Linked DNA regions of Homo sapiens: region 2 is reported to be linked to region 1. The links are microRNA targets in miRTarBase. Many come from high-throughput screens and were not tested one by one. Region 1 holds a microRNA gene; the other region holds the end of a gene's coding sequence.

Region 1 (3,000 bases):
TCTACTAAACTACAAAAAACTAGCCGGGTGTGGCAGCGCGCGCCTGTAGTCCCAGCTACTCAGGAGGCTAAGGCAGGGTAATCGCTTGAACCCAAGAGGTGGAGGTTGCAGTGAGCCGTGATCGTGCCACTGCACTCCAGCCTGGTGACAGAGCAAGACTCCATCTAAAATATATATATATATTTTTTCTTTTGCCATGTTGCCCAGGCTGGTCTCGAACTCTCCTGGCCTCAAGCGCTCCTCCTGCCGTAGCCTCCCAAAGTGCAAGGGTTACAGGCATGAGCCCCTGAGCCCAGCTCCAGAAGACAGGTCTAACCTCATCCTCACCTGCCCAAAGTCCTGTGTGCCCTGACTCCCATTGTTCCTGGAACATTCTCTGCCCTTTCACACCTCAGGCTTCTGCTAGTGCTGGTTCCTTCCAATCCGTGTCCAGGGTCCAGCGGCCCTACCTAGCCAGGCATGGGGGCTGTGCCCCTCGTGCTCCTAGTCCGGCTGCTAACAGCAGTGTCCAGTTTCTGGGAGAGCTGCAGGTGAGCGAGCACCAGGTGGGGAGGCCGTGAGGGTGGGTGTCCCAAGCCCAGTGGAGGATCACAGAGCCACTCAGTGTCGCTGACCACCAGGGAGGGATGGGGCAGTGTGTCACTGATGTGAGGCTCCTTAAGCATCAGTCTGTGAAGGGCCACCAGTGCCCCACGCCCCCCAGGGAAGCGAGGACAGCCCCACCCGCTGTCTAGCCTCACTCGGGGCACTCAGGGTCCTCGCCAGTGGGGCTGGGTTGGGGGAATGCACAAGATGGGGCCTCAGGAGGAAGATCTGCAGGAGACACATGCTTTCTTTGCACGAGCAGTGGCTTGCTTGGGGGAGAGCAGGCTGGGCCCAGAGCGGCCCTTCCCCACCCCATCTCCTTGGTCCTGTGCCGTTTCTGCCCTGGTGTCTGGTCTGGGGTGTGCACCCCACTTCTGCCACCCATTTTGCACCTGCACAGGCAGCTGGCTCCCCAGTTCCCAACAGGCCACCCAGCCAGGCCCCTGGCCCAGCTCCCCACCCATCTCCACCCACCACAGGGCCTCCTCAGTCCCCCACACTCCCAGACCTCAGGTGGTGCCTCCAGAGCGAGCTGTGTCCACACAGGGCTCTACTGGAATGCCTGGCTCTTTGGAGAGGCTGAGGCTGACTGAATGGGCTCTGGGCAGCAGCTGGCACGGATGCCATCCTGGTTGGGGCTCACCTCCAAGAGAAGCGTGTCCGGCAGGTACCGGTCCTTCCAGTGGTCGAGGAAGACCATGTCCAGTGTGTCCACATCATACTTCTTCTTCAGCTGGGGGATGATGTCCTGGGACGCTCCAACCACAAGGGTGACCTGGAACAGCGCCTGTCAGTGCCCACGTCCTCACAGACAGGAGGCCATCCCTACACACCTATACAACAGCGCCTGTCAGTGCCCACGCCCACACAGACAGGAGGCCATCTTTACACACCCATACAAGCATTCATCAGTTTTCTTTAGGGTTCTGGGATGACAAGGCCCCACTCTGTCCCTGCCCCTCCTGGTGCCACCTTGGCAGTTTACCCAGAGCTGTGAGACCCTCACTGAGCTGCTGGGGGGGTCTTTCCTCAGCCCCAGGCTGGGAAGCACTGAGGGGCCTGGTGATAGTGGGTTTTCAGTGAACGTGGTGTGAACACCTGGTGGGGAGGACAAAGTGCGCATGCCCTCCCTGCCCACAGCCGGCCCTTTTTCCAGGTCTGACAACGGGTCAGGCATGCACACCTTGTCCTTCACGCCAGCGAAATCCACCATCCGCTGGGTGATGGCGGCACAGTCGGGGTTGATCTCGATGGTGATGAGCCTCGCCCCTGGTGACAGCAGGCGGGCCATGCGCACAGCTGAGTAGCCACAGTAGGCCCCCAGCTCCAGCAGCACGGAGGGCTGGTGCTCCTGAATCACGGCGTCCACGATCTTGCCTGTGCAGGGTTGGGGACGGAGGAGAGGTGAGCACAGGTGGAGAGAGGGGAACTTGGATCCCCAGGCACGGCCCCCCACCTCTCCCAAAGAGCAGGAGCCCCTCCCAAATGCCTGGCCGCTGGCCCTCCTCTGCCCACCCTCCCTACCCGCTGGAGGGGTATTTCACCTCCCTGGTGTCCCCAGCCCCCAGGACCTGGTCCCCACTGTGAGCGCGCTTGGAGCTCCCATGGTCCCTTAGCCTCTATGCTCACGCTGGTCCCTATCTTTTCCACCCTTCCTGGCTGGCCCCAGTGTGTCCTAACACAGAGCTGCCCTCTCTGAATCACCGAACCGCCCACCTTGGGGCCCTGGGGCGGCACTAGTTCCCTGAGTCACTCCGTGAGCCCGGTAACACATCCTGTGCCCCAGGCTGAAGTTCAAGCGGGAGGCGGGCCCAGGAGAACCTGTCTGACTGGTCCCCAGGCAGGTCCCATGGTGGCCAGAACAGAGTTCAAGGGGAACTGCACCACCGTCAGACCCTGTGAGTGTGGGGGCCTGTTGTCCTGGGGCAGCAGGCAGCAGGGCCTGCAGGGGTCATCAGGGACCCTGGCACCCTGGGACTCCAGAGGAGCCCCCCAGCCCTATCTGGGCATATCCCAGGGTTCCCAGCCCCCTGGAAATGGGGTGATAACAGCTTCTCCTGTAAGGGCTTTGATGCCTGGTCCTGGGTCCCTGTCCCAGAGCTGAGCACCTGCTGGCCCGGACCCCACCTTTCTTGTCGCCCACGTTCATGGCCCACTCCTTCTGCTCGCAGTAGGTGTCAATGGCCTCCAGCACGCTCTGTGCGTTCCCGGGCTCCGCATGCTGCAGCACGTGGTTCAGGATGCGCTGCTCCTTGGTGTCACCCATGAGCAGGTTGTGGATGGGCTGCAGGATGAACTCGTTCCAGCCGATAAGGCACAGGCCCCAGCCCCAGTGCCTCAGAAGCAGCAGCAGCACCACCAGCAGCACCAGGCCCAGCAACACAGCTGCCAACAGCAGAGGCGGGGCCTCCGGCA
Region 2 (3,000 bases), not on the chromosome of region 1:
CTTTGCTTTTTTCTCCAGAAAAATTACTCAAGGGTACAAGTTAAATCTCTAAAATACACAGTATCACAATACCAGTTTCTAAAATATTTCTGCAAGAAGTTAAAAGGTTTTGAAAAGATATGCCAGAATGAGTCAACATACAGGTGCTTTTGCTAGGGTTCATTAAAAAAAAAAAAGAAACAAAAAAACACTTGCCCCATTTGAATAATGATTTATCAGGCTTTAGGAAAACTAAATATAAATCAAAAACCTAAGGAAAAATCGATTCTTATTTTCAGATCTTTATCTATTAAGAGGGGATGAAGGGTGGGTAAACGCAGGGATGTAATGGGAGTAGTGTGTACCAATTGTGCAAAATAACTAAAACAATTATGAAATGCTTACATATTCCTGGCCAGTATAACTTGAATTATGAATGAACCATTAAAGACAAAGATTCTTAATCAACCATTTATCTTTTCCTTTTAAAATGTAAGGCATCAAACTTGGAAGATCTATAACTATTTTATTAGACGGTAATATATAAACAAATGACAGTTCAGATAATATTTTTAAAGTGCTATGATCATTGTAACTTTAATCAGATAAAACGTAATTATTATTAACATTTTTACATTATAGCTGATTTGTCTAAATTCTAATTACAATAAAATATATCGTTTTATCTTATCAAATAGTTTTTATATTGAGAGTGAAAGAAACAGTAAAATAGTCAGAGGAAAAACTAGTGCCATACCCAAAAGTATTACTTCAGAAATTTACTTTAATATCATATTTATATTAAAATATTTTATTTGTCTCCATGGTATTTCTATGAGATATTAGACTGTTTGTCCCTATATCCCTATTTTACTCATGGAGAAACAAACATAGTATGTTTAGTAAATTTTTCAAGGTCATTCACTATGTCAGAATAGCGCTGGGAATCTAATTTATTATATTTTTCTTGTACAATACAGCACCTAACACAGCGCCCTAAAAGAGTAGGTATTCAATAAACAGTCATTGAATGAAAGAATTAATGGACAAACCATTCTGTTCTATGAAATCTAAAACATCTATCATATTTGCTATTTCTTTACTCAGTAAATTCAGCAGGCTGGAGGAGCAGTTGAGCAATAAACTTTATGCACTCTCCTACCCACAAGTTTAGATTGTCACCTGAAGGGGCTTTGCAAGATGGTATTGTCTGGTCATTCCTGAAATTATACACTTCCAGGATGTCCCACATACCCCATAAAGAGAGTCATTAATCTGGTTCATGTGACACTGGCTTTCGTGGTGTGAATGTGGTCCACCAGCTTTTGGCAGAGACCAACTTCTTTCACAAAAGTCTCCAAAAATGCATTATTAGTAATGAATGTATTACTGATACCTAGCCTAATGATTTTTAGTGACTGTTTTATATCTTGGTCCTAAAGAACCGTAGTTAGTGGCAATCCTTGAAAATAAATCACTTGGCTAGTATTGGCTCTGGCTATCTCAGGCCTTGCTGATGGTAATTACAATGCTAGAAAGGATAACTCAATTTATTTCCTGAGTTAATTTGTCATAAGTTCAGTTGCAATTGTAAACATGATAAAGGTCACAGAGGCATGACTTTTAGAGTTGATAAAAACAATGTAGTAAAGAACACGAGTATTTATATTACCAGGAATATGACAAAAACATAACAGTCATTCCCAGGGATGCACTGTCGAGTAGATTAAAAATTGTTATCCATGTCATTGGCACTGATGACCAGTTACCTAAAATACAAGTAAGACATCTCACGAAGGCATTTAAGGCTAAAATGAATTCCTTAAACTTTGATGGCATTCATATTTTGCCATTATGAGAAAGAAAAACATTTTACTTCACAGAAAGAATGTATTAAAGTGAAATGAAAATATTTTTATATTTGTCACCCAAATTTAGTGATTGATCTAAAATTTCACCCAGGTGACATTTTTATTAAGACACAGTCTGGAGAAATTTCAGAATTCCACATCTCATTTGCTAATATTTTAAACAAACGATTCACCAGACCTGACTAATTGAATGGTGTATTTCCACTGGACTGAATGTCCTAATTATCATTCAAGACATATCTTAAAGATTTATCAAGCATTTACTCTCCACCTTACCATGTCTAAAGCTCAGAGATATTTTGAGCTCTAAAAGAGTATCACAAGAAATTTATAGCAGTCTGTAGTACAACTATTACCCATTCTTAGAGCAAAGCCACAACTAAAATAGAAATAGACAAAAATAAAATAAAATCATTAAGCATCAACTTATTGGGTAAATTAAGTTTAGATACCCATATGATGCAAAAGGGTCACTTTTATATAAGCTTCCCCATCTTTTAAACTTAGAGCACAGTCTATGTTGTCATTAAAAAAATAATAGCTAACTGAAGCCAGGAATTCATTTTGCAATTGTGTCAATTATTTTAAAGATACCATTATTAAGTAAACTTTAAATTAGTTTGTGTACAACCTTATAGTGACTGGAAATAAGATAAATACAAGCACCCCCTCCCACCGCAGCAAACACACATAACAGATTCTTGAGACTTAGACCCTTAAACATGTCTGCTCATCACTCAATCCATTTGGCCACCCTTTCCGTCCACACCAGGCCAAAGAGCAAAATGTTTTCACAGAAATTCTCTGGGTTGCATATTCTTAATTGCCTGAACTACTGTGGACAAAACATCACATTTTTAAAATCTTAAAGCACTTGTAAGGGTCATACATGTGTGTTTACTGTCCTTGTTGCTTCTGTCCTGGAGAATTTGCTTGACCAGAGCTCTCTCCAGGGCGGTCTGCAGGAGTGAAAGGAAACTGAAATCCATAGCCATTGTACCCATCCAAGTAGACACACTGGAAGAAACTGATGGGACCTAAGGAACAGAGCATGACAGTTTGTTAAAACATGCAGAACATGAGCAAAAAAGCACAGTGAGGCAGTGCAGTGCAGCAGATAAGGTCACAGATTCTGCCAGCAGCCTCCGTA

What was found. Region 1 holds the annotated microRNA hsa-miR-4761-5p (ACAAGGUGUGCAUGCCUGACC, at 1,753-1,773, opposite strand). A microRNA usually pairs through its seed, bases 2 to 8, with sites in the 3' UTR of a target mRNA and lowers its output. Matches are read on the target gene's strand: a 7mer-m8 pairs with bases 2 to 8, a 7mer-A1 pairs with bases 2 to 7 and ends in A, and an 8mer does both.
Region 2: the mRNA of TRDN is a reported target of hsa-miR-4761-5p. Seed matches in the 3' UTR shown: 7mer-A1 at 891-897.

The regions. Positions count from the first base shown.
Region 1 is chr22:19,962,528-19,965,527 of GRCh38, reverse strand. MIR4761 (microRNA 4761) reads right to left here and starts at 1,775; the gene lies at 1,694-1,775. COMT (catechol-O-methyltransferase) reads right to left here. Exons shown (of 6, transcript NM_000754.4): 3 at 2,713-3,000; 4 at 1,769-1,962; 5 at 1,229-1,360. It also overlaps a transcript of ARVCF not described here. RefSeq lists enhancers at 1,287-2,002, 2,003-2,718, 2,719-3,000.
Region 2 is chr6:123,215,854-123,218,853 of GRCh38, forward strand. TRDN (triadin) reads right to left here. Exons shown (of 41, transcript NM_006073.4): 41 at 486-2,887. The coding sequence ends at 2,748. Among named protein-coding and RNA genes, the nearest start is that of CLVS2, 220 kb to the left of the region's middle.